4 separate regions of the Homo sapiens genome follow, and regions 2, 3 and 4 are each reported to be linked to region 1. The links are microRNA targets in miRTarBase. Many come from high-throughput screens and were not tested one by one. Region 1 holds a microRNA gene; each other region holds the end of a gene's coding sequence.

What was found. Region 1 holds the annotated microRNA hsa-miR-6771-5p (CUCGGGAGGGCAUGGGCCAGGC, at 4,367-4,388, shown strand). A microRNA usually pairs through its seed, bases 2 to 8, with sites in the 3' UTR of a target mRNA and lowers its output. Matches are read on the target gene's strand: a 7mer-m8 pairs with bases 2 to 8, a 7mer-A1 pairs with bases 2 to 7 and ends in A, and an 8mer does both.
Region 2: the mRNA of RGS9BP is a reported target of hsa-miR-6771-5p. The part of its 3' UTR that is shown has no 7-base or 8-base seed match.
Region 3: miRTarBase lists EMC2 as a target of hsa-miR-6771-5p. Seed matches in the 3' UTR shown: 8mer at 4,607-4,614.
Region 4: the mRNA of KNL1 is a reported target of hsa-miR-6771-5p. Seed matches in the 3' UTR shown: 7mer-m8 at 1,670-1,676.

The regions. Positions count from the first base shown.
Region 1 is chr16:50,288,255-50,295,374 of GRCh38, forward strand. It overlaps MIR6771 (microRNA 6771), which reads left to right and starts at 4,362; the gene lies at 4,362-4,421. It overlaps ADCY7 (adenylate cyclase 7), which reads left to right. Exons shown (of 26, transcript NM_001114.5): 2 at 1-96; 3 at 2,203-2,406; 4 at 3,482-3,643; 5 at 4,422-4,571; 6 at 5,100-5,248; 7 at 6,386-6,497.
Region 2 is chr19:32,676,495-32,683,612 of GRCh38, forward strand. RGS9BP (regulator of G protein signaling 9 binding protein) reads left to right here. Exons shown (of 1, transcript NM_207391.3): 1 at 1-1,806. The coding sequence ends at 477. Among named protein-coding and RNA genes, the nearest start is that of RGS9BP, 4.2 kb to the left of the region's middle. RefSeq lists an enhancer at 1-50.
Region 3 is chr8:108,485,909-108,493,028 of GRCh38, reverse strand. EMC2 (ER membrane protein complex subunit 2) reads right to left here. Exons shown (of 11, transcript NM_014673.5): 11 at 3,833-6,517. The coding sequence ends at 6,431. Among named protein-coding and RNA genes, the nearest start is that of EMC2, 46 kb to the right of the region's middle.
Region 4 is chr15:40,661,511-40,668,614 of GRCh38, forward strand. It overlaps KNL1 (kinetochore scaffold 1), which reads left to right. Exons shown (of 26, transcript NM_144508.5): 26 at 564-2,832. The coding sequence ends at 678. Among named protein-coding and RNA genes, the nearest start is that of RAD51-AS1, 30 kb to the right of the region's middle.

The DNA of each region.
Region 1 (7,120 bases):
CAGCTCACCAGCCAGCATGGGCCGCTGCTGCTCACGCTCCTGCTGGTGGCCGCCACTGCCTGCGTGGCCCTCATCATCATTGCCTTCAGCCAGGGGGTGAGTGAGGGCAGCCCCTGGGCTTCACGTCTCGGCCCCAACCTTGGCCAAGCTGCTATCTTCTCTTAGCCTCTTCTGTAAAATGCTTATCTTCTGTAAAATGCTATGCTTTTTTGTTTGTTTTGTTTTGTTTTTGGGTTTTTTTGAGACAGAGTCTCACTCTGTCACCCAGGCTGGAGTACAGTGGCATGATCTCGGCTCACTGCAACCTCCATCTCCTGGGCTCAAGCAATTCTCCTGCCTCAGCCTTCCGAGTAGCTAGGATGACAGGTGCATGCCACCATGCCCAGCTAATTTTTGTATTTTTAGTAGAGATGGGCTTTCACCATGTTGGCCAGGCTGGTCTCGAACTCCCAACCTCAGGTGATCCACCTGCTTCGGCCCCCCAAAGTGCTGGGATTATAGACGTGAGCCACCATGCCCGGCCAATGCTCTGTCTTTTACAGCACATTTAGACTGGTAGAAGACAAGTTTCTAATTTAAAAAAATTTTTTTTGAGACTGGGCCTTGTTTTGTTGCCCAGGTTGGCCTTGAACTCCTGGGTTCAAGTAATCATCCTGGCTTATCCTCCTGAGTAGCTGGGAGTACAAGCATGCACGACCATGCCCAGCCTCTCTAACTTTAATTCAGTTTTGAAGTCTGGAGTGGTTTCAGACATTACATTAACTTGTCCAGATAAACTACTCTCATTTTTCTCCATGATGAAATTCGATTCTACTGAAGACCTGGGTCAGGGATGGCCTGTGTATCACTGCCCTCACTTCCTGTACCCATGCAGACATCATTAATCAATCCCTACATTCCACACTGAGCCTGTCTACATTCTCAGAATCCTCCTTTTGTTTTTTTTTTGTTTGTTTGTTTTTGTAGAGACATGGCCTCGCTATGTTGCCCAGGCTGGTCTTGAACTCCTGGCCTCAAGTAATCCTCCTGCCTTGGCCTCCCAAAGTGTTGGGATTACAGGTGTGAACCACTGTGCCCGGCCTCAGAATCCTTTTTAACACAGCTCTCCAGGCTGGCACCACCTATGTCATTTCCGGCCCAGGCACTTGCCTTGGTACAGCCACTAGCTGTGTTTAGCTATTGAGCATTTAAAAAGTGGGTAATGTGACTGAGGAACTGCATTTTTCAAAAAAAAGAGTTTTGCTCTTATTGCCCAGGCTGGAGTGCAATGGCACCAACTTGGCTCGCTGCAGCCTCCACCTCCTAGGTTCAAGTGATTCTCCTGCCTCAGCCTCCCGAGTAGCTGGGATTACAGGCCCATGCCACCACGCCTGGCTAATTTTTGTATTTTTAGTAAAGACAGGGTTTCACCATGTTGGCCAGGCTGGTCTCAAATTCCTGACCTCAGCTGATCCACCTGCCTCGGCCTCCCAAAGTGCTGGGATTATAGGCGTGAGCCACCATGCCCAGCCCATTTTCTTTTTAGTGAATGTAAATTTGATTAGCTGAGTTCTAGAAGAACACTCAGAAACTCCAGGGTGTTTATGTGAGTGAAGTGGCCAGGACCTAGCAGCTGCCAGTGCAGCCTGGATCCATGTGGCTACCAACCACAGGATGCTTGCTACTGTGTGCCAGCCCCCAGATCAGGCCTCTGCCCCCACGGACCTCCCGGATGCTGTGCCCGTCCTGTCCCACCTCTGTGCCATTGCCTCAGCTCCTCCCCTGTGGGATGACTTTTCCTGGTATCCCTCACCAGCCTCTGCTCACTCACTGAGGGCCAGGCGCAGTGTCCTCTTTGGGCGGCTTTACAAGGCTCTGCCTGTGAATGAGTCCTGCCCTGTGCTTGTGGTATCACCTGCGGCTGTGCACAGAGCACCGTGGGAACCCAGAGAGGAGGCAGAGGCAGATGGAGAGTGATGGCATCATGGGCGGGGCTGTGGGTGATGCTCTGGTTCCCGAGATGATGGGAAGGGGGTGGTTGAGGCAGCCTTGGCAGAGGTGACAAAGGCCAGAAGGTGAGTGGGAACCAGGTGTGGGAGGGTGCATCCACACCCTTCACGTGGAGGAAGCTGTAAGTGAGGCAGCCGGCCCGGCAGGCTTTCTGGAGGAGGTGGCTCTGCACTGGGGAAAGCCGAGGCATTCCTGTCTGTTTGCTCCACCCAGGACCCCTCCAGACACCAGGCCATTCTGGGCATGGCGTTCCTGGTGCTGGCGGTGTTTGCGGCCCTCTCTGTGCTGATGTACGTCGAGTGTCTCCTGCGGCGCTGGCTCAGGGCCTTGGCGCTGCTCACCTGGGCCTGCTTGGTGGCGCTGGGCTATGTGCTGGTGTTCGACGCATGGACAAAGGCGGCCTGTGCGTGGGAGCAGGTAACAGGAACTCTGGACTCCCTGCCAGCTGCGCCTTCAGCAGCTCCCATCCCCGTGGTTGGTGGGCATGCCACAGGCCCTTCGTGCCCCACGCTTGGCTGTGTGTCTAGGATGGCCCCAGGCTGGTTTTGTCCCTGTGAGTTCTCTGCATTGACAGGGCTGAGGTGGGGAGAGCATCCACTCGGACGCTGGGCTGCAGCACTTTTGGGTGGCTCCAGTTTGGTTGGAGATGACAGAACTTCAGCTCAAAGAGGCAAAAAGGCACAAACTGGTTCCTGTGTCAGGAAAGGCCAAGGGGTCAGTGCTGGGCTCCAGTGGGTAACTGGAACTGGGGCCTCTGGACAGCTTCGGCCCCGGGCACGCTGTCCCCAGGTGGGGGCAGAGAAGTTCACAGCGGCTCCAGGCTGCCCACCCCAGTTGAGAGAGAGGGCCCTTTCTCAACCAGCTCGACCTGCAGGCTTGAGCCACACTGGCCTGGCTGTGGTCATGGGCCCAGTCCCAGAGAGGCTGTCACCAAGCGGTAGCACACTCTGACCAGTGGGCCTGGGTCCTATGACAGCTCCTGTGGCTGGGGCAGGGTGGGGTGAGGCCCAAGGAAACCATGTGGACTGAAGGGGAGGGAGAGGGCAGCACTCCCAGAGGGGTGGACGCAGGACCAGCCGGTGGGGATGGTGGGGCAGCTCTGGGGGTGGAGGGAGGGCGGGTGGGGCCGCATTGCTGGAGGCAGCTGGTGAGAGGGTGCCTCAGCCTCCCGGTAATCATTTCTGCTGAGCGAGAACCACGTGGCAGGGGCACCAGGTGGGGGCTCCCTGGATCACGCGGGGCATGGAGCCTCCCACCTAGGGTGGCCACAGGCAGTGGATCAGCACAGGAAACCATGAACCTTGTGGCCGGGCCCACCCTAGAAACACATTATGGCTTTTCTTGTTCCCTTGTATGTCTGCCCACGCAGGGGGTGGCGAGGGAGCCAACCTAAGGATACGCACTGGGTGGGCTGCTGTGGTGCAGGGTTCCGGGGGCTGTACGGCCTGGGGCAGCATCTTGGGGCACCGGGCTCACCAGGCTGCATCCACAGGTGCCCTTCTTCCTGTTCATTGTCTTCGTGGTGTACACACTACTGCCCTTCAGCATGCGGGGCGCTGTCGCCGTTGGGGCCGTCTCCACTGCCTCCCACCTCCTGGTGCTCGGTTCTTTGATGGGAGGCTTCACGACACCCAGTGTCCGGGTGGGGCTGCAGGTGAGGGATGGGCTAAGGCCTCTGGGGGAGGTTTTGTGGTCTGGGTCTAAGGGCAGATGGGGGGGCCCCCTCTGGGTGAATCAGACCCGAAGGCCCCGGAGCCGTGTTTGCAGACAGCCCGCTCCAAGGCCGGGCCCTCTCCACGTCTGCTCGGAAGCTGGGCTCCAGGCGTGGCCCTGCCCTCTGGCCTTTGCTTTGCTGGCCTAGGGCTCCCCTGTGGCTCAGCCCTCAGGGTCGTGACCTCAGGCCTTGCCTCCCGGTTCAGGGACACTGTCGTGGGGTGAGTCCCATTGCCGAAGTTTCCCCTCGAAGGCCCTGTCCTGGCGGGGCTTGGGGGAGTACCCCAGGGCACTGCCTTGTGTCTTTGTGTTGAATGAGTGAATCTTCTGTTCATAATTATTGGGTGTTTAGAGAAGTGTTTTCCCTCTGACCAGGCCTGGTGTCCTCTCCAGGCAGAGGCTGGCCCTCCACACAGCCAGCTGGGCGCTGTGCCCTCTGGGACTGCCCTTAGCACGCATGCCCCTCGGGCCCTGGGCTCTGTGAGGTGGTCTCTTCTGCCTCCCTGGGTGTCCTGGTCTTGCAGTCCTAGTGACTCACTAGGAGACTAGCTCCTGTCTGGGCCTCAGTTTCCCTGTCTGCCCCAGGAAGAGTGCCATTCTCAGTGGGTTGAAGGTCAGGGAATGGGAAGAGGTGCCATCACTAGTCCGCCTAGGGGTCTGGTGCCTCGGGAGGGCATGGGCCAGGCCACATAATGAGCCAAACCCCTGTCTACCCGCAGCTGCTGGCCAACGCAGTCATCTTCCTGTGTGGGAACCTGACAGGCGCCTTCCACAAGCACCAAATGCAGGATGCATCCCGGGACCTCTTCACCTACACTGTGAAGTGCATCCAGATCCGCCGGAAGCTGCGCATCGAGAAGCGCCAGCAGGTGGGACCCGGCCCCCACTCCTCACCCTGTACACCCCTGTCCTCTTCCTCTTTCTGTTGGACATGAGACACTCATGCTGCCATGTGCATGAGGTGCATGGCCAGACACCCATGCAGGTCTCACCTCGGTGAGTCCTGGGCTCCAGCAGGGTAACCATAGCCTGCTGACCCTTGACTCTGCCTTCCTCTGTGTGGTTTCAGTCCTGGGCACGCAGTCCCCAGGTGGCGGCAGAGAAGGCCGTAGTGGCTCCAGGCTGCTCACCCATCAGCTTAGCCTCCCCAGCTGAAAGAGCCCTTTCTCAGTCACCCTGAGTCCCGGGGGCTGCTGGGTACATGGGAGGTAGATGCTCAGTTGGGTTGGTGGAGGACAAGAGCAGAGATGGGGACATTGTGGGCAGGGCAGGCAGGCAGGGAGGATGGGGGCCAAGGAGGCCAGGTCTGGGACCTGATGCTACCCTGCCTGTCCCCCGCTGGTCCCTCCGCCGGTCGCTTTGCTGGTCCCTCTGCTGGTCTGCCCACCCACACCCAGGAGAACCTGCTGCTGTCAGTGCTTCCGGCCCACATCTCCATGGGCATGAAGCTGGCCATCATCGAACGGCTCAAGGAGCATGGTGACCGTCGCTGCATGCCTGACAACAACTTCCACAGCCTCTACGTCAAGAGGCACCAGAATGTCAGGTGGGCGGTGAGACGTGTGATTAGCATATCCCGGGGACTGGGCCCACCGTTCCACCGGCCCCCAGGCGGCCTCCCCGCCCTATCTGGAGGCTCAGACCCCTGCCCATATAGGGATTGGGAGAGGGCCCCATGGTTCCAGGTCAATCTGGGGCCCTCCCTGGGTCTCAGAACCCCCACTTGTGGGCAGGATCAGATCAGGGCTCTTAAATTAGAGAATTTAGATTGGTATTGAAAGATCTAGCACACCCCCAAAACTGTAAAACTGTGTGAGCAAACATAGCTTTTGTGAAGGAAGGGGTCCTTTCAGATGGTTCTCAAGGGAGCACAGGACCCCCAGAATGAGGTAAAGCCCCCCGGCCTTGGTGCCCAAGAGTGCCCCGGTTCTGACACCTGTCTTTGGCTGATTTGCAGGGAACCACAAAATTTTACTTGAATGCACTGACCTGAGTTTGTCAAGTGTCGATGTGGGTGCTGGGTGCCGTTGAGTGTAGATGTGGGTCCCAGGAGACCCCCTGGGTCCTCTGCCTGCAGCGCCAGCATTACATCCAAGGCTGGCCCGCTGCCTTTTCTCTGGGCTGTGGATGGTCCATGAGCTTAAGGACTTTGGAGCAGGGAGAACTGGTGCAGATGCCAGCTCTTGGCTTCCCAGCAAGTCTCAATGTCCTGGAGCCTCAGTTTGTGCATCTGTAGAACGGGAGTTCGGCAAGGGCTGTGTGAGGACTCGATGCCTGTAAAGTGCTGGGTGTGGAGGTTGGCTTGAGGGAGCATGGAGCTGCCTCTCACCAGGGAGTTCTGAAGTCTGTGCTGTGGTGAACATTGGATGGGAAAGGGGAAGGCTCCGGGCTGCCTGCAGGAGTGCCCTTCGGCTGTCTGCAGTGATAGGGCCTGGGGTGGGGCCGAGGGCTCCTGTAGGCTCTGAATTTTGCTCCCTTCTGCTTTAACGTGAAGCCCCTGGAACTTTAATCTGTCTCTATGGCTGGGCGCGACTCTCCCATCCCTATGGAGGCTGAGGAAGGACGGGGGTGAATGGGCTCAGGCCTGGCAGGCTCCTGGGGCTCCAGACAGTCCTGCGTGCTCCTGCTGCTGCTGTCTAGGAGCCTGGCTCTGACACTCCCTCCCACCCTGCCCCATCCCCAGCATCCTCTATGCGGACATCGTGGGCTTCACGCAGCTGGCCAGCGACTGTTCTCCCAAGGAGCTGGTGGTGGTGCTGAATGAGCTCTTTGGCAAGTTCGACCAGATCGCCAAGGTGAGCCCGCTGGCCTACAATGGGCAAAGCCAGGCCCCTCCCCTGCCTATTACACCCCAGGGGTGTCCTGTGTTCAGTGCCCTGCTGGAATTGGGATGGGGAGGCGTGGCTGAATTTTAGCATCCAGCCAGCAAACACAAGCGCCCCATGGTAAAGGTGGGGGTGAGTGGTGGCCACGGCAGCCAGGATCCTGTGCCCCCAGAGTGACAGGCCAGTGGGGAGACTGACAGTGCACACTGGGCGATATACTGGGGCTCTGGAGCTCAGATGGGGGCTCAGGAGGAGGAGATGGCTCCATCCTCACTGGCAAGGCTAGCAGCCTCCACTCACCTGGTAGCTCAGGAGGACTGTGGAATGCCCAGCCTCACCCAGAAGCTGCTTTTCACAGGATCTGAGGTGAATCATGTGCACATTAAACTTTTACGTTTTGTTTGTTTGTTTTTGTGAGATGGAGTCTCATTCTGTCATGAAGGCTGGAGTGCAGTGGTGCCATCACTGCTCACTGCAGCCTCGACCTGCCAGGCTCAAGTGATTCTCATGCCTCAGCCTCCTGAGTAGCTGGGACTACAGGCATGCACCACCACGCCTGGCTAATTTTTTTTTTTTTTTTTTTTTTTTTTTTT
Region 2 (7,118 bases), not on the chromosome of region 1:
CTCTGGGTGGCCTTCTCGGGCTGCCTGGACCTGCTGGAAGCGGACATGCGACGCGCGCTGGAGCTGGGCGCCGCGTTCCCGCTGCACGCGCCGCGGCGGCCGCTGGTGCGCACAGGTGTGGCTGGCGCCTCCTCCGGCGTGGCGGCGCGCGCGCTGAGCACCCGCAGCCTGCGGCTCGAGGCGGAGGGCGACTTCGACGTCGCGGACCTGCGGGAGCTGGAGCGCGAGGTCCTTCAGGTGGGCGAGATGATCGACAACATGGAGATGAAGGTCAACGTGCCCCGCTGGACCGTGCAAGCCCGGCAGGCGGCGGGCGCCGAGCTCCTGTCCACGGTCAGCGCCGGCCCCTCCTCGGTCGTGTCCTTGCAGGAGCGCGGGGGGGGTTGCGACCCCAGGAAGGCCCTGGCCGCCATCCTTTTCGGCGCCGTGCTGCTGGCGGCTGTGGCCCTAGCCGTGTGCGTGGCGAAGCTGAGCTGACGGACACCCGACGGCCGCCTGCTGCTGCCGCTCCCTCCCCTGAGAAAAGACTCGGGATGGGTGTGGGGTCTGGCCTGTGCAAGGGGAGTGGTCCTAAAACCCCGTGTGTGCATGGGTACACGCGCGTTTCCAGTGCACATCTGCCTGGGCAGGACACGGTTTCCTCTTGCTGGCCCGGGAGGAGTTAACTTTGCGCCGGCCGTCAGGGCATTACCGCTAACGTCTGCAGGAGCTTTATTCCCTATTAATAGAAAACCGTCACAGTGACCCTAGATCCCTCCGAGTTAATGAGTTAACACATGTGCTGTTGGGGCGTCTTTACAGGGAGTCCGAGTTCGGTGCCCACCCCTGCCAGCGTCGCCCCCTTTCTGCGTGGGACAGTTTGAAAAGGTGGGTGGGGTGGAGTGAAGTTTGGAGAGGGACGCTGTTTGGTTCTATGTGGTTGGTCTGTTTCCCGGACAAGAAAAATTGCAATCAAATGTCAGCAGCTTTTATTACCTTAATCTTTCAGGGCCTAAATTTAGGAGAGTGTCCCGAGAGCAGTTCATACAAAGGGCTTTCTCTAAGACGCGCTACAGCCCTTCCTAGCAGAGTTTATCCATTCGTCCCCAAGAGCAGCTAGAAGAGATTTGAGGTCATGACCTCCCACTGCCGCTCAGGGGCTGACCCTATTTAGGAAACCAAAGAGGGTGGGTTGAACCTACTCTCACGGACTTGGATCCAGTGCGCACACTTGCCTGCGGAAAAGGGCTCTCCCCAGCCACCCGGAGATGGGGGTAAGAGGAAGAGCAGAGGCTTGGGGTAGGGCCACCTGGTGTTTAAACAGGCACTTTCTCCTTCTCTGGGGCTTATTTTTGTTCAGAACTAGACCAGAGTGTTTGAACCTCCTTTGCAGGAGGGCTGGGAATCCTCTTTAGAGCACTTAATCCTATTTATCCCCTGGAATGTGCGTGCTGGCCAGTAGGAGGGCTGGCTTTGGCAGCTCCCTGACCCCCGCGCTGCCCGCCCCTCCGGGGTAATGTGGCATTACTGGCCCACAGAGGTTTTGAGCCAATCAGCTCTGAGACTGGGTTAGAATGTAACAGCTTTAACTTGGGATTTAAGAAGCTTTTAAAAGGTAATAATACTCTGAAAGAAAAATGACGTAACCACAGCGTGTACTATGAAAGCTGTTATTTTAATAAAGAACGCTGGGCCATGAACTCATACCTGCCAATGAGTCAAACATAGTATCTTTATGTAGATACTTAGATTACTAAATATATATTTCATCTACTTCTGAAGTTGATAGTCTTCCCCCCCCCCCACTTTTTTCTTTTTTGAGACAGGGTCTCCCTCTGTCACCCAGGCTGGAGTGCAATGGTGTGATTGTGGCTCACTGCAGCCTCCAAATCTCGGGCTCAAACTATCCTCCTACTTCAGCCTCCTGAGTAGCTGGAACTACAGGTGTGTGCCACCGCACCTGGCTAATGTTTTTAAGGCAGTTAATTTATTTATTTATTTTTATTTTTCTTTAGAGATAGGATCTTGTGGTGTCGCCCAGGCTGGAGTGCAGGGGCGCAATCAGCAAACCACAGCCTTGAACTCCTGGGCTCAAGCTCTCCTCCCACCTCACCCTCCCAAGTAGCTGGGACTAAAGGTGTGCATCACGGCACTCAACTAATTTTTTGTAGAGACAGAGTTGGGCTATGTTGCCCAGGCTGGTCTCAAACTCCTGGCCTCAAGTGGTCCTCCCACCTAGGCCTCCCAAAGTACTGGGACTACAGGCATAAGCTACTATGCTCAGTCTAAAATCAATATTCTTTATTTTTTTCTATAATTTCACTGCAAAATAAAATCTATATTCTTGAGTAGCCACACAAGTGTAAATGACAGAATGTTAAGTGGCCTTTAATTCTTTTGATCAACAAGTAAGAAAATGCTTGGTCCTTGGTCCCAGGATGACATCTGCCTGAGCAGTGCTGCCAAATCCTGCCTGTGGTCCAGAGAGAGCTCTGTCCCATTCTTGGGTAAGTTAGGCTGTAAAAACAGATGCATTTAACTTTCTTTTCTTTTTCTTTTTTTTTTTTTTTTTTGAGATGGAATTTTACTCTTGTTGCCCGGACTGGAGTGCAGTGGCGTGATCTGGGCTCACTGCAACCTCTGCCTCCTGGGTTCAAGCAGTTCTCCTGCCTCAGCCTCCCGAGTAGCTGGGATTACAGGCGATTGCCACCATGCCCGGCTAATTTTTGTATTTTTGGTAGAGATGGGGTTTCACTATGTTGGCCAGGCTGGTCTTGAACTCCTGAACTCAGGTGATCTGCCCACGTCAGCCTCCCAAAGTGCTGGGATTACAGGCGTGAGCCACCTCGCCAGGCCACATTTAACTTTCTAAAGGTAATTTGCAATAAATTCCAGAGACTTTGGCTGAAAACTGACAAGGATTTTTTTTTTAATTCTTTTTTACCCCAGAAGTGAGAACAGGGGTGACCAGGGGAAAGGAATTGGCCATTTTTCACATGGGCCGCTTGGAGGACCAAGGGGCAGAGGTGGATAGCAGAAGGGATGCTGTCAGGACACCCAGACTTAAGATTCACTCTCCCCCCAACCCCCCACTATTCCTCAGGAGGACCAAGAGATTCCAGCAGCTCAGATAGGGCAAATGTAGGATCTGTGTTTGTGTCTGTGATCATGCTTTTAAAAGACCCACAAGGTCTTAAGCTGATTAAATGTTTTGCAATTACTTTTTTTTTTTTTTTTTTTTTTTAAGATACTGGGTCTCTATGTTACCGGGGCTAGAGTACAGTGTCACAATCATAGCTCACTGAAGCCTCAAACTCTTGCGCTTGAGAGATCCTCCTGTCTCAGCCTCCTGTCTGGGACTACAGGCGTGCACCATCACACCCTGCAAATTTTTAAAATATTTTTATTTTTTAGTTCTTGTACAAATGGAGCCTTCACTATGTTGCCCAGGCTGGTCTCAAACACCTGGGCTCAAGCAGTCCTCCCACTTCAGCCTCCCAAAACCCTGAGATTTATAGGCGTGAACCACCATGCTTAGCTGACAATTACTAATAACAAGAACCTCTTGCTTCACCCAGTGTGGGTGAATCTGAATAGGGGCCACTTCAAATTCTTTTGCACCTGGTTGCCCAGAGTGCCTTTGAAAATGACATAGAACGTTTTTAAGCCACTCCTCCCACATATGGACTCTCTCGTTACCTTCCCCAGAGTCTCATCTCTGGCAAGAGAAGGCTGGGACATTTCATTACCCTGTGTTGGAAAATATACCTAGGCCAGCACAGTGGCTCAAGCCTGTAATCCCAGCACTTTGGGAAGCTGAGGCAGGTGGATCACCTGAGGCCAGGAGTTCGAGACCAGCCTGGCCAACATAGCGAAACCCGATCTCTACTAAAAAATATAAAAATTAGCCGGGCATGGTGGCACATGCCTATAGTCCCAGCTACTCAGGAGGTTAAGGCAAGAGAGTCGCTTGAATGCAGGAGGTGGAGGTTGCAATGAGCAAGATTGTGCCACTGCACTCCAGCCTGGGCAACAGAGCAAGACTCTGTCTCAAAAAAAAAAAAGAAAGAAAAGAAAATGTATCTAAAAATGAAGTCCTAAAGGTATTCTACTGTTTCTAAGACTGGGAACCTTTGTTCTTATCAAGGTGTTTCGGGTTATGAATTTTTTTTTTTAAAATGGTTTAGCAGAACCTATTGTTGAAACAACCCATCAGATGTGTGTTTCACTGAGGGCAGTGGGAAAAACAAGGTTTTTCTTTTTGAGACAGGGTCTCAATCTGTCACCCAGGCTGGAGTGCAGTGGTGCAATTGTAGCTCATTGCAACTTCAAACTCCTGGGCCCAAGCGATCCTCCTTCCTCAGCCTCCTGAATTGCTGGGACTACAAGCTTGCACCACCATGCCCGGCAGGATAAACAAGTTTTTGTTGTTGTCACTCTTTCTACCCACTTGGCTGATCTTTGGGTATTTAGTTATATGTGGATCAGATGTGTACTTGATTCTGAAGGTCTTCTGCTCGCTGAAATTAGTGATAAAATATTGCAAAAAAAAAAAAAGCTGAATTACAATAAATATACTCACCCTGTTGGACCTATTAACATAAACAGCTCTTTGAGTTTGAAAATTTTAAGTATTAGGGGTATTTGGTATTATTTGGAGTTATGACATTGCCTAATAGAACTTCTGCTATACGACAAGCAAAATCACTTTCTGCCTTGTGCAATAGGCTGCTCTCTAACTAGTATCTCTGCTCTCATTTTTATATGTAATGCAAGAGATTGCTTTCTAATAGAAGCCTGATTAAATTGAGATGTTTGATGCATAAGTCATTAATTTTCTGTGAACATTTAGTATGACCTTAAACTATGATACAAGTGTAGGAAAAAAAAACAAAAAATTCAAACTGTGTTAGCTGACACTGAAAAGACAAAAACTTGGAATGTCAAGGCTTTTATCATGGAAACTTTGATTTCAGAAGAATGTGATCTGGGCTTTTGTTATTAGTAAAAATAATATTTGTAGGAGAAAAAAATGCCTGGCAAATTATTTTTATGTATTCTAAGAACATATGCTTTTTTTCTTTTCTTTTCTTTTTTTTTTTTTTTTTTTTTTTTTTTTTTGAGACAAGGTCTGGCTCTGTCACCCACGCTGGAGTGCAGTGGCACAACTTTGGATCACTGCAGCCTCCACTTCCTGGGCTTAAGTGATCCTCCTGCCTCAGCCTCCCAAGTAGCTGGGATTACAGGCGCCCAGCTAATTTTTTTTTTTTTTTTTGTAGAGATGGGGTTTCACCATGTTGCCCAGGCTTGTCTTGAACATCTGAGCTCAAGCAATCCACTAGCCTCGGCCTCCCAAAGTGCTGGGATAACCAGCATGAGCCACCACGCCTAGCTGCTTTTTTTTTTTTTTTTTTTTTTTTTTGAGACGGAGTCTCGCTCTGTCACCCAGGCTGGAGTACAGTGGCAAGATCATGACTCGGTGCAGCCTTGAATTCCTGGGCTCCAGTGATTCTTCCACTTTAGTCTCTCGAGTAGCTGGCACTACAGGTGCATGCCACCACACCCAGCTAATTTATTTTAAAAATTTTGTGTAGATATGGGGTTTCCCTATGTTGCCCAGGCTATCTTGAACTCCTGGGTTCAAGTGATCCTCCCAGCTCTGTCTCCCAAAGTTCTGGGATTACAGGCATGAGCTATTGTGCACAAGCTAAGAATATGTGCTTTTAAATCCCATAAGGAAAAAAATATTTTTGGTAAATAAAATTAAAGCATAAATATCATGATTTACCTGACGTTTACCGTAAGCAACATAAAAGATATGTGATACTGAATGACTAAAAAGTAGTTTTGGTTAAAGAGAGTTCTAGTTTCCATGAGGACTCTGACAATGCTGCATTTTATTTTGCTTTTTAATGTGCACATTGGTACATGTTTAACTACTCTACTCCTGTTCAAAATGTACTTCTCTGTTCTGCAATGAATGCTTTTTAAGGGTGCGAGCCCCAGGGCGTGAAATGAATGTGGTAGAACTGGCCTCTACATTTCTTTTGGGTGTGTCTCCTCCTGCAAGGCCTGGCCAGCTGCGATGGGCAGAGGACACTGCCTCGCTCTCCAAGTACCTCAATAAGTCATTGACCTACTTGTGCCTCATGTCTCTCATTTGCAAAATGAGGGTCCTACCTGATTAACTCAAAGATTCCCCTTCTAGAGCTTAAAACATTGAACAAAATGCAGTTAAACAAGAAAGGGCTATGTTTGTTGGTTTTGTTTTTGTCTTTTTTGGTGTAGTTGGTTGGTTTTGTGTATAATGGAATGGAATCATATCATTTGCTGGTTATTGTCTAATATTAGTTTCAAAAACTAATAAAAATACTTTAAACTTCAAATTAATTTTCAAAATCAGAAGTAACTAAGCATATCATGCTTTCAGTGCACATCAGAATTAGTGTATGGGCTTAAAAGCAAATGTGTGTAAATGCTACTTATTGGTAGTATTTAAATTAGATTAGGAATTTAAATTCAGGCTCTAAGTCGGAGTCTAAGAAAGCCCACTGATTATTAAAACAGTCTGTTTTACCCAGCAATCCAGGCCACCTGAACATCAGAGCCTGGGAAACAGTAGATAGGAAGCTCTGTCATTTGTCTTGGAGGCTGGGAGAATCCTATCCCATAAGTAACTTGGTAGCCTTAGAACTGCATGAGCTGCTTTACCACTGGGAAACACGAGCACAGCCTAGCTTGATTTTGTATGTGGTATCAGATCTAAGGTGGATGGAATTCAGGACTTCCTGTCTACTCTTTGATTTTGTTTTATTTTTAGAAATGTTTTATTTTGTTTTATTCATTTATTCATCTTCAGAGACATGGTCTGGCTCTGTTGCCCAGGATGGAGTGCATGGTGTGATCATAGGCCACTGCAGTGTTGAGCTCCCAGGCTCAAGCGATCCTCCTGCCTCAGCCTCCTTAGTAGCTGGGACTATAGGCACATGCCCTACCATGCCTGGCTTTGTCTACTTTTTGAATGATGTCTCAAACTAGAAGGTCTATTAATTTAAAAAATTAAGGATAGCATGCCATAATTAAAAATAATAACAGTGGGAAAAGGCACCTTCCAATGATTCAGACATCAACTTGTGATT
Region 3 (7,120 bases), not on the chromosome of region 1:
ATTACAGGCATTGGCCACCAGGCCTGGCTAATTTTTGTATTTTTAGTAGAGACAGGGTTTCACCATGTTGGCCAGGCTGGTCTCAAACTCGTGACCTCAGGCAATCCGCCCACCTTGGCCTCCCAAAGTGCTGAGATTACAGGCTTGAGCCACCATGCCTGGCCTGCAGATTGGATTTTTGAAGTGACTTCCTGATTGCAGTTTCTTTTAGTAGGGAACTAAGTGAAGAAGTGGAATTAAGCTACTTCTGGAAGTAAGGTTTGTTAAATAAACTATACCTAAATGTGCACAGTATTTTTAATTCATTCAAATACATACCATATGCAAGCATCATGCTAGAAACTAAAAAGGTAAACATGGACAAAAACATATAGGGTCTCTGCCCTCATGCAACTTAAGAATCTACTAAGAGAGACAGATAATCACCTGAAAATATAATTAAAGTGATAAACTCTCCCAATAAAAGGTGCATGACAGTTGTAATATAAAAGTGTATGACAAACTGATTTCCAGTGTAGCTAAACCTGTGTAATAAGTAATTCAGTAACTCTTACAGCTGTCTGCCTTAGTTTCACTTTTTTTTTTTTTTTTTTTTTGAGACAGCCTCGTTCTGTCACCCAGGCTGGAGTATAGTGGCGTGATCTCAGCTCACTGCAACCTCCACCTCCCAGGTAGCTAAACCTGTGGTGGAAATGTAAAATTTCCAATTTCAGACAAAATGTCTGAAAGTGGCTCTGCATATCTCAGCATGTGTTATTACCAGCTATTCTAATAGGTGTTCAATGGTATCTTGTTATAATTTGCACTTCCCTATTAATAATGATGCTGAACATCTTTTCATGTGCTTATTATCTGTACAGCTTCTTTGATGAAGTGTCTGTTCAAGTCTTTTGCCCATTTTCTAATTGGATTATTTCTTCCTAATAAATTTTGCAAGTTCTTTATATATTCTGGACATAAGTTTTCTGTTGAACATGTGCTTGCAAATATTTTCCGTTTATGGCTTGCCTTTTCATCCTCTTTAACAGGGTCTTCTACAAAATGTTTTTATTTTTTACAAAATTCAATGTTTTTTTAAGGAATTTTAATGCCAGTTGGCCTAACCCTTGCTCAAGATTTCCTGTTTGCTTCTAAGTTTCAGTTTTATATGTTACAGTAAGAACATGACCCATTTTGAGTTAATTTTTGTTTTAGAGACAAGGTTTTGCTCTCTTGCCTAGGCGGGAGTGCAGTGGTGTGATGACAGCTCACCACAGCCTCAAACTCCTGGTCTCAAGTGATCCTTCTGCCTCAGCCTCCCAAGTAGCTGGGACTGAAAGTACATGCCACCATGCTCAGCTAATTTCTTAAAATTTTAGAGAGAGGTTCTCACTATGTTGCCCACCCTAGTTTCAAACTCTTGGCCTCAAGCTGTTCTCCCACCTCAGCCTGCCAACTAGCTGAAATTATAGGCACGAGCCCCCCATGCCTAGGGAGTAAAAGTTTTTATAAGGTAGAAGGTTGAGGTTGAGGTTTTTCTTTCTTAGCTATGACTATTCAATTGTTCCAACACCCTTTGTTCGAAATTCAATTTTTCTAACACAATTCATCTATTGAATTGCTTATGTACCTTTGTCAGACGTTAGTTTTTCATACTTGTGTAGGTCTATTTCTGTACTCTATTCTGCGTCTATCACTGAGCTATGTGTCTATCACTACCAAAACCACACAATCAGTACCAATATCACAGTCCCGATTACTGTACTTATGTGTCTTAATATCTGGTAGTGTGATTCCTCCAACTACATTGTTTTCAAATTGCTTAGGATATTCTAGTTCCTTTGCTTTTTAATGTATTTTAGAATGAGCTTTATTCCGATTCTTTAGAATCAGAATCATTCAACAAAGAATCCTTCTGGGATTTTTATAGGACTTGTATTAAACCCATAAATCAACTTGGGGGCAACTTAGTTAATATATTGTCTTCCAATCCATATAAATGGTTATGTTTCAGACTCTTTAAGTCTAGACATTTACAATCTATTATCTCTCTGAAGACTGCTACCTGGAAGATTCATCTGCATAAAACCTTGGTTTCCACAACCCCTTATCATATCCCAGACACCAGTATCTATCAATAATAACCGACTCCCAATCAGAAAATCTTTGGATTTGTCTATGACCTGGAAGTCCCCACTTCCAGTTGTCCCACTCTCCTAAGCTAAATCAATGTACATGTTACCTGTATTGATTGATGTCTTACGTCTCTCTAGAATGTATAAAGCCAAGTTGTAACCCAATCACCTTAGGCACATGTTCTCAGGATCTCTTGAGGGCTGTGTCACAGCCCATTAGTCACTCATATTTGGCTCAAAATAAATCTCTTCAATATTTTAGAGTTTGACTCTTCATCAAGGTCCTGTAGGTGTTTTGTTGGATTTATACTTAGTATTACATTTTGAAATTGTAAATGGTATTAGCATATAGAAATACAATTTGATTTTTGTGTGGTTGATCTTGTATTCTGTGATCTTACTAAATTCACTAGTTCTTGTAAGTTCTTGGAGATTTCTTAGAACTTTGTATGTAGAAAATAATGTTAAATGCAAATATAAAGTTAATTTTTTCATTTCCAATCTCTGTGCCTTTTATCCCCTTTTCTTATATTATTGCACTGGATATCAAGTACTACACTGAATAGGAGTGGTGAGTGTGCATATCCTTATCTTGTTCCTAATCTTAAGAGGAACGCATTTAGTCTTTCATCATATATTATTTTGTAGATGCTGAATGTTTGTGGAAGAAGGAAGTATAACAACTTCATGGACTTTAAGTGTACCTGAATTCAAAGTGTGGGAAAGTGGAAGGACATCATTTACAATTAAAGAAATCTAAATTCTCTCCTTGATTCTGATACTATATAGACCCTCAAAGGCCATGTTAAGAGCCAATAAATGGAAAACAGCAAGAGTTTTAACGATGGGGGCAGAGGGGGAGGGAGCAAAATGGCATTATATTATATTCTAAATATTTTGAAATCGTTCTCATATTTACTGTAAATGAAATAACATCTTAAATAATTTAAACACAATTTAAATTAAAATATAATTTACCTTTTTATTTAATTAAAAATTGTTTTACAAATCAGAACATCTGAATTATAATCCCTGATCTGCTAACAAGCTATGATCCTTGCATATAACTGGTTCTCATTTTTGTCACTCTAAAATTAGAACATCACAAGATAGCCAGATGCAGCAGAGGATACCAGAAAAAATGCTGACTTGGAAACCCCTGACATCCTGGGTCTGGTCCATGCTCTGTAACACAAGAGGTTAATTTATCTGAACCTCAGATATCCTCATCTTAAAATGAAGTACAACAAAATCATCTCCAAAGTCCTGTCTAAAATCCTATGGTTCTATGAAATGAATTAAAATGAAGTTACTTTGATGATATGTGGGCTACAGTATATAAGACAAAAAGATTAATTGAAATATTTGTCAATAAAAAGTTGAAGTATATGCTTGCAGCATACTAAAATACTGGTCTTCCCTTTATATTTTTCTCTACATCCTCTTGTGCCCCCAAATCAGTATTATTTTTATGGTTAAGCTGTGTAAATATGTCCCCTTTTCACCTCTGTTGGCTTAGAATGCTAGGAGCTGAGCTGCACTAAGACATTACTTCTTTCGTTATATGGAATTATCTCCTTGCTTTAAATGATTAGATTCTGAAATAGCATCCCTGACATGTCTAAAATAAGAGTTTTACACTTAAAAAATGTTGAAGAGTAGATAAGCAGATATATTAGTCAGAAACATACATGGCTAAAGTAACAGGAAACCAAACAGTGTCTTAAACAATCTGGAGTTTATTTTTTCTCATTTAATAATTGGGGAGTTTGGCAATTGCTCATCTTGATTTGGGTGTTCAACAATGCCATATCAGGGACCCAGGATCCCCTTAATCCTCCTTCAGTTCTATCTCTGAAATGTAACTTTCATTCTCACATTTGCTGTTTCATGGTTGTTTGATGGCAGCTGCACCTTTAGGCATGCTGTTGGCCAGAAAGAGGAGAAAGAGGCAATGACTGTTACCACACAAAGCTCTGATTTTTTAATTTGAAAGGAAAGCCCTTCTCAGTAGGGTTCTGTTCATTTCATTCAATTTCTCAATTGCAGTAGTCACATATCAAGTACTCAATATCACATATGGTTAGTAGCTACCACAATAGAGAGACAGAATGGATGGTTGATTTCCTTCACTGCAAAAAGTTCTGCCTCGTACTAATCAGACTATACAGAATTAAACTACCACTTCTGTTTCAGATCAATGAAGGTGCAACCTCTGGAGTTGGGGTAAGGTCCTAATCTCTTTGAGGAAGAGGGATCCTTGCCACTATCAGATCAAACTAAGGTACTGCTAAAGAAGAAATAAAGGTAATAGCTGTAGGCAACTGCCTGCTGTAATGGGATTATCAGTACATTTAAGTTGAAGTTTATAAATAACTAAGGATTGGCAATGTGCTTAACAAATATAAAATCTTGGAAAGAAGTTATTAAAATTTTGAAAAAATAAAGTGATACTGGCCAGGCTCAGTGGCTCATGCCTGTAATCCCAGCATTTCGGGAGGCTGAGGCGGGTAGATCACTTGAGGCCAGGAGTTTCAGACCAGCCTGGCCAACATGGTGAAACCCCATCTCTACTAAAAATACAAAATTAGCCAGGCATGGTGGCACATGCCTGTAGTCCCAGCTACTCAGAGGCTGAGGCACAAGAATCGCTTGAACCCGGGAGGAGGTTGCAGTGAGCTGCGATCACGTCACTGCACTCCAGCCTGGGTGACAGAACGAGACTGTCTCAAAAAAAAAAAAAAAAAAGTGAAACTAAGGCAGACAGCTATAAGAGGCACTGAATTACTTATTACACAAATATAATTGCTAGAGTAAACACTAATCCAGTGACTGACGGGGAGGAGGTTTGAAGGGGAAAAGGTAGTGAAACAACGTGCAGGCACTATTTTCTTTACAGAAAATGTAAATTTCAAATGGTTCATCATGTTGAAAATGCAGTTACTAATTTCATGTGTACAAAGACGGGATCTTTGTGGTAATAAAGATTAGTAGAGAATTACCTTCAGATGAGAAGAGTTCTTTCACAGAATATATTAATCAGCTGCCTATTACTCGTGGCAGAATAAAACGAAAATGACTGTAATATGAAAGATTAGACTAGATATGGAGAATAATTTATTAGCAGAACTATTCAAAAGGTTAAAAGAAGCTGATATTGACAATACTTTTCTTTCTAAACACTTCTAGATTGTCAATTCCTCCACAATCCCCACTTGTCCAAAGCAGCAATGACAAGTCTGTAGATGCCTCTGTATATTTTTAGTAAAAATAAATTTAAATATATTTATTATAAACAAATACCATAAATATTTGCGGTGAACAGTTGCTATTTTAAAAACTGATTTGTGTCTAAATGAAATTTAACTTTCAAGTCTCTTCTATTTTGTTGAAACATGTCAAATACTGTTGAAGGTAGCATAATGGTTGTTTATTATGAAAAGAGAAAAATAAAAAATTCTAACTAAGGTAATGATAGAATAGGAAAATTTTAACATTTTTGTTTCTAAGGATAGTTTTAATTTTCTTATTTTTTTCAAAATTAAAAATAACTACAACCCCTTTAATCCCTACTCTTTATGATTCTTTAATATTCTTTCATGTAATTTACTATTAAAGGATTCAATAAATATAACTTGCATAAAAGTTAAAGTGTCGTAACACATATTTATCTTAAGGCATTTTATATGTAAAAATCTCAATTATGTCCTATATCAAAACAAAAATTTTACAAAGAAATATTGCTGAACTTTGGAGAATGACATATTTTAAGCAAGATTCATCAGAAGGATATTACAGCAGATAAAACAATTCAAATAGCCCACTGGAATGTACAGCAAAATCCAATTCGACAATATAAACAAAGTCAAAATAATCTGCTTCGGTCAGCTACATATGCTGTGACTTTGCTATCACCAGTAAGGAGTTAACTAGAAACTGAGTTCTTAAACAATATATCCACTGTGAGTATAACAAAATGAAGTTAGAATCTTCATATGCAAGTTTAATAAATCATCATGGTTTATTTAACAAGGTTATACTACATTAGAGTTTTATATATATACATGTATATGTGATATGAAGAGACTGATGTACAATCAATAAGTCTTAAATCTCTCTTCCATGGATTTCCCCCATCTCCCCACTTAGCAGTAAAAGGCATTTTTAGGTTTATATAAACACATTCTTTACAACTGCCTTCTTAACAGAAAATTACTGTAGTATATAAATAGCACTGAGCATTTAGTAAATAAGTTACAGGCCAATAAGTTCAATTGTGCAGTTGTGAAATCTAATGTCAAAGAGTTTTTGAAACCTTAAGACTGGGTGATCTGCAATGTTTCCAACATGTCTTCGACAGCCTTAAGAGAATATTTGGTTTCCTTCTTACTTCGACCTGCAAACTAATTAAAAAAAAAAAAAAAAAGCTCAATTAGGCTCAATTTCAGTGGCAGGTTAAAAATGACAATCTTCACACTGTTAATGAAACTTAACATTGACTATTTTATCACTAGTAGGAAATCAAATATATTCTTTGCTTTTTCAATAAGAATAAAATTTGAGTATTAAGGACATTTTCCTTTAAGGTCTTACCTTCAGCTGAAGTGTACAGAGAGTTCACTGCACACTTGGCCAGTTTAAGTGTTTACATAATATAATAACCCATAAAATCATGTATTTGAAACTATCTTATTCAGACCAAAATAATGAAATAAAAAGTATAATTTTAAAATGCAATTTAGCTTATATTTATGTAGTGTAGCAGTGTGAACCACTTCCACTTGTCTGATGTCTAAACAGATTTTTACAATTTCAAACAAAGGTACAATACAAATACAAGTTATTTCACTAAACATTTTAAAGTTGCAAGTACTCTCTAAAATTATTTAAAGTAGCTCATAATTTTTTTTAAGTTTCCAGATTTATTAGTTAACTAAATGATATGGTTCTGCAAAGAGCTGTCAAGTAAAAACCTATGCTACACATTAAAACAATGTAAACATGTT
Region 4 (7,104 bases), not on the chromosome of region 1:
TCACCTTATATTTGTCAGCAAACACCAAGACTAAGATTTTTTATGACCAACAAAAGTAGCTAGGTTAAGATACTTCACAATTACATATAGAATTGGTTCTTAGGCCCTGTTTTGGAATCCCATTTCAAACTGGATATCTGGTTATTTCCAGAAATGCTCATTTGTGCTTCCTAGGAAACTGAGAGACCAAGAACATAAATTCCACTGAATTAGAGACAAGTGTAAGATTTTTTAAAAAATTGATTAACCTGGCTGGGCGCGGTGGCTCACGCCTGTAATCCCAGCACTTTGGGAGGCCGAGGTGGGTGGATCACAAGGCCAGGAGATCGAGACCATCCTGAGTAACACAGTGAAACCCCATCTCTACTAAAAATACAAAAATTAGCCGGGCGTGGTGGCAGGCGCCTGTAGTCCCAGCTACTCGGGAGGCTGAGGCAGGAGAATGGCATGAACCCGGGAGGTGGAGCTTGCAGTGAGCGGATTGCGCCACTGCACTCCAGCCTGGGCGACAGAGCGAGACTCCGTCGCAAAAAAGAAAATTGATTAACCTTTGTTCTTTCCAGCCAAGATGATATTGCTACCATTCTATCTAAAGTGCCACTGGAGAACAACTACCTGAAGAATGTAGTCAAGCAAATTTACCAAGATCTGTTTCAGGACTGCCATTTCTACCACTAGACCCTTGGACCACCATTGGAACAACCAAGCAGAATGTACTTGATATTATTTCAGGGTCCCATTGCTGTTCAGCCTTTGTTTTTACGTCATTACAAGCTGAGTAAAATTCCTTCTGATGATGTTATAGTTAATCTGTATGTTTTTTATATCTCTGCAGAATGATGGTGATGAAGTCTGGATGGTAGGCCTCATAGCCTACTATCAACTTACTCATCTTTGTACCAAAGGTTTAAGTAATAGGACACTTAGGAAAAATGTCTCCTAACTAAACTAGTGCTTTCTGCTTTAGTACAAGCCCTAAGGATTAACTTAAGTATAAGAAGTGTTATCACTGACAAGAACATTAGCCATTTTCCCATAACTAGATAGAGCTATGATTTTTTAGGTTGCCTGGCTTCTGCCTAGCAGATATTTCTGGAGTAGAAATGTATCTGTCTACAAACTATTATCCTTTTTCTCCGTTACTAAAATGCTATTAAGAGAAAGTAGGGCTGGGTGCGGTGGCTCACACCTGTAATACCAGCAGTTTGGGAGGCCAAAATGGGTGAATAGCCTGAGTCCAGGAATTCAAGACCAGCCTGGGCAACATGGCAAAACCCCACCTCTACAAAAAATACGAAAGTTAGCCAGTCATGGTGGCTTGCGCCTGTGGTCCCAGCTACTTAGGAGCTTAAGGCAGGAGGATCACTTGAGCCCAGGAGGCAGAGGTTGCAGTAAGCCGAGACCATTCCACTGCACTCCAGCCTAGGCAACAGAGCAAGACCCTGTCTCAAAAAAACAAAAAGAGAGAAAGCAATAGCACTCAGCTATTGAAATGGTTGCCATCTTTTTTTGAAGGCCTTGCTTTTTATTCTATGGTGTCTATTATGTTTTCTTTTTCTTTTTTTTTGAGACGGAGTCTTGCTCTGTCGCCCAGGCTGGAGTGCAGTGGCATGATCTCAGCTCACTGCAAGCTCCGCCTCCTGGGTTCACGCCATTCTCCTGCCTCAGCCTCCCGAGTAGCTGGGACTACAGGTGCCCACCACCATGCCGGGCTAATTTTTTGTCTTTTTAGTAGAAATGGGGTTTCACGATGTTAGCCAGGATGGTCTCGATCTCCTGACCTCGTGATCCGCCTGCCTCGGCTTCAAAGTGCTGGGATTACAGGTGTGAGCCACCACACCCAGCAATGTTTTCTTAATAAGTATAGTTTTTCTAGGGAAAGTTAATTCATTTTTGTCTAGTACATATATGTAAATATATTAATGTTGTTTTTGTGTTTGTGATGTAGTAAGGAGATGTACATAGAAATTCATTGAGGTATATAGATACTCATCTGTCTAGGCAGTTCCCAATTTTCTGAAGAATGTTTTACAGCAAAATTTTCTATTTTCTTTTATTAAATAGTGACACGTCAAACAATGTCACATCCAAAACACTAGTTTCATCAATTTCTAGCAGTAATAATAGACTTGCTGTAAGTATTGTTTTCTGATGCCATACCCTTGTCATACATATTATTAAATGACCAATATTATGTATGAAGTAGACAAAAAAATTTACTCAAACTTCATTCAAATCCTAATTGTGATAATTTTTGTTTTATATTTAATTATAAACCAAAATACATTTGCATTTTTAAGCTAATTTGTCTCAAAATTTTGCTTTATATTTTTGGATCAGGTTAAAGTCCTGTGGATCCCCTGAATGTTATTGTCCCTCTTGATTGGTTTTTACTTCTGAGCTATACGTCAAAAGACACATAAGCTTCAAAAGTCAAGACAAACCTCATTTGCCATAAAAATCAAGATATAGATGTTCTGTTCCGTAAACTCCTTGAAAAACATTTTAAAGTCATCAATATGATCTGTTTCCCATGAAACTTAAGTTAGCTTTCTTATTGGAGTTATTTCTTTTCTGTAAGTCTGAAAAGTAGAGATTTTGTTTTACGCATTTTAGTAACCTGCAACAACCAACTCTAAAAAAGATTTGGCTTGTAATGACGGTCTCTGCTTTTTTGGGTTTGGAGTACACAATTGTAATATTTACTTAGTTATTTGTGTTTTTCTTTGTTCAAGGTATTGACTAGTTTCATAAATTTTTTGAAAGTTTTTCTTTCATTGGTTGGAAAGCAGATTACATTTTGCACTATTAAAATAAGTTTATTACTTTAAATCTTTTGTGAGTAGTGTTTCTTTATAAAGAATATTTTAGCATTTATCCAATAGACCTTTGAAGATATACCAAAGAAACCTTCCTCTGGAGACACCTACCTATTCAAAACTGAGATTAGGCCGAGTTCAAGCAGGGTGCTTCAGGCCAAGAATTCAAATCCAGCCTACACAACATAGCAAGACCCTATCTCTAAAAAATTTTTTTTTCTTGGCTGGGCATGGTGGCTCATGCCTGTAATGCCAACCCTTCGGGAGGCTGAAGTGGGCAGATCACCTGAGGTCGAAAGTTTGAGACCAACCTGACCAACATGGAGAAACCGTGTCTCTACTAAAAATACAAAATTAGCCAGTCATGGTGGCACATGCCTGTAATCCCAGCTACTTGGGAGGCTGATGCAGGAGAATTGCTTCAACCCGGGAGACAGAGGTTGCAGGGAGCCGAGATCGCACCATTGCACTCCAGCCTGGGCAACAAGAGTGAAACCCCCATCTAAAAATTAAAAAATAAAAATTTTTCTTGTTTTTGAGATGTGGTCTCACTATGTTGCCCAGGCTGGTCTCGGACTCCTGGGCTCAAGAGATCCTCCCATCTCAGCTTCCCAAATTGCTGGGATTATAGGTGTCGGTCACTGCACCCAGTTTGCTATTCTTTTTCTAACTTCTTGTGATGGTAGGTACCTAGCTCATTTATTTTCATTCTTTTTTTTTTGAGACGGAAGTCTTGCTGTGTCACCCAGGCTGGAGTGCAGTGGCCTATCTCGGCTCACCAAAACCTTCGCCTCCCAGGTTGAAGCGATTATCTTGCCTCAGCCTCCTGAGTAGCTAGGATTACAGGCGTGCACCTCCACACCCAGCTAATTTGTGTATTTTTGGTAGAGACAGGGTTTCACCATGTTGGCCAGGCTGGTTTCAAACTCCTGACCTCAGGTGATTCATCCACCTCGGCCTCCCAGAGTGCTGGGATTACAGGCATGAGCCACTGTGCCCAGCCTATTTTCATTCTTTTAACAAGTACTTATGATATATTTCTTTTCTTTTCTTTCTTTCTTTTTTTTTTTGAGGTAATCCATCTGCCTCTGTATCCCAAAGTGCAGGGATTACAGGCGTGAGCCACCATGCCTGGCCCCATATATTTGTTTCTAAGTAATGTTGTTTATCACTCATTCTTCTCCTAATCTGTTTTTTTTTTTTTGTTTTTTTTTTTTTTTTTAATATTTATGTCTTTTTTTGTTTGTTTGTTTGAGAGGCCAAGTCTCACTATGTTGCCCAGGCTGGTCTCAAACTCCTGAGCTCAAATGATCTTCTCGCCTCAGCCTCCCAAAGGGCTGGAATTACAGGCCTGAGTCATTGTGCCCAGTCTCAAATATATATGTCTTTTTTGGTCAATAAGAAAGTGAGATTATTACTGTTTCTTAGAACATGACTTCATAACAGAGCTCAGCCCCAAAGATCCAGATCAGACTTGAAGAACAAGAGTTTGAAGGTGATTGCTCCACAAATAAAAAATACTTGTGGGGCAAGAGATTGATTCCAGCATTAATATGTTTGCTTCTAAAATTTTTTCTTTCTTTTTTTTAGACAGGGTCTCTCTCTGTCACTCAGGCTGGAGTGCAGTATCACGATCATGGCTTACTGCAGCCTTGACCTCTCTGGGCTCAAGCGATCCTACCATATCAGCCTCTCGAATGGCTGGGACTACAGATGCACACTACCACCCCCAGCTAATTTTTGTGGAGATGTGATTTCAACATGTTGCCCAAGATGGTCTCAAACTCCTGGCTCAAGTAATCCACCCACACTGGCCTCCTAAAGTGCTGGGATTACAGGTGTGAGCCACCACAGCTGGCCTAAAATTTTCTTCAGTTCTAAAGTTTGTGAAAAGCAACAGTAAGGCTGGGCACGGTGGCTCATGCCTGTAATCCCAGCACTTTGGGAGGCCGAGGTACAAAGATTTCATGATATATAAACTGATTCTGTCTAAAATCTGTTTTTATGCTAAACTTAGTATCACATATAATTATTTTTAAAAATTTTTAATCACCTTATGTTATCCTATACTAGATTTTATTCATTCTATCTAACTGTATTTTTGTGCTTCATCACTTGAGGTCGGGAGTTCAAGACCAGCCTGGCCAACATGGTGAAACCCCATCTCTACTAAAAATACAAAAATTAGCTGGACGTGTTGGCACATGCCTGTAATCCCAGCTACTTGGGAGGCTGAGGCAGGAGAATTGCTTGAACCTGGGAGGCGGAGGTTGCAGTGAGCTGAGATGGCGCCACTGCACTCCAGCCTGGGTGACAGAGTGAGACTCCATCTCCAAAAAAAAAGAAAAAGGAACGTAAATAACAAATCAGACTGAGCCTGGTAGGACCTATAGCTGAGATTAATTACACTCACAGCTGAAGAAGGTTTTTAGACTGAATGACAGAATAAATCCCAAGTGGCAAAAATATACATTTCACTCCTTTAAAAATATTTCACCAGAAATATTTAGGGAAAAAATCATGATGTAAGATATTTTAATCCCCAGGAAATGGCTGGGCGCAGTGGCTCACGCCTGTAATCCCAGCACTTTGGGAGGCCAAGGCGGGCGGATCACGAGTTCAGGCGTTTGAGACCAGCCTGACCAACATGGTGAAACCCCGTCTCTACTAAAAATACAAAAATTAGCCGGGCGTGGTGGTGCGCGCCTACGTCCCAGTTGCTCAGGAGGCTGAGGCAGGAGAATCGATTGAACTCGGGAGGCAGAGGTTGCAGTGAACTGAGATCGCTGAGGTTTGCCACCACAGTTGTCTATGGGTAAATACACAGATTTCACAATGCATAAGCAGATTCTGTCTAAAATATTTTCCTGGGTCAAACTTTACTGGAGCTCTGTAAGGTGTTCAGACTGGCACTAACCAAACACAAGAGACTTCTACATAGCAATTCTTATCTAGTGTAACATAAACACCATCACAGCATTTTATTAATTGTTATTAATGAAACCTTAACACATTTATCCATATACTTTATTGTAAACACAACTGACATTCACATTACCATAAGAGCATTATTGCAGGAATCAATGTTATGAGAAAGCAATTGCTATGATTTGAATGTTTTGTCCCCTCCAAAACTCTTGAGACTTAATCCCCAGTCCGCCAATATTGAAATGTGGGGCCTTTAAGAGCTGATTCAGTCATGAGGGCTGTACCCTCATGAAATGGATTAATGTGTTACTATGGGAGTGGGACTGGTGGCTGTTTCAGAAGAGGAAGAGAGGCTGGCCAGGTGCAGTGCCTCACACCTGTAATCCCAGCACTTTGGGAGGCTGAGGTGGGCAGGTCACATGAAGTCAGGAGTTTGAGACCAGCCTGACCAACATGGTGAAACCCCATCTCTAATAAAAATACAAAAATTAGCTGGATGTGGTGGCACCTGCCTGCAGTACCAGCTACTCAGGAGGCTGAGGGAAAAGAATTGCTTGAACCCCGGAGGTGGAGGTTGCAGTGAGCTGAGATCACACCACTGCACTCCAGCCTGAACGACAAGAGCAAGACTCCATTTCAAGAAAAAAAAAGGATGAGAGAGCCAGGTACGGTGGTTCACACCTGTAATCCCACCATTGTGGGAGGCCGAGGAACGGGTTGGGGGATCTCTTGAGCTCAGGAGTTTGAAACTAGCCTGGGCAACATGGCAAAATCCCATCTGCACAAAAAATACAAAAATTAGCAGGGCATGGTGGTGCATACCTGTGGTCCCAGCTTCTTGGGAGGCTAAAGTGGGGATATCACTTGAGCCCAGGAGGCAGAGGGTGCAGTGAGCCAAGATGATGCCGCTGCACTCCAGCTTAGATGAGAGTGAGACCCTGTCCCCCACAAAAAAAGAAAAAAAAAAAGAGGAAAAGAGACTTGAGCTAACACTCTCAGCTCCCTCGACCTGTGGTGCCCTCTGCCAACAGGCACCCCATCAGAGTCCCTATCAGCAAGAAGGCCCTCATCAGATGTGTCTCATCAACCTTGGACTTCTCAGCCTCCAGAACTGTAAGAAATACATTTTTGTTTCTTTATAAATGACTTGAGTTTTAGGTATTCTGTTACAAGCAACAGAAAATGGACTAAGATGGAAAATATTGTTGTCCATGGCTAAGTACAAAGATTTCATGATATATAAACTGATTCTGTCTAAAATCTGTTTTTATGCTAAACTTAGTATCACATATAATTATTTTTAAAAATTTTTAATCACCTTATGTTATCATATACTAGATTTTATTCATTCTATCTA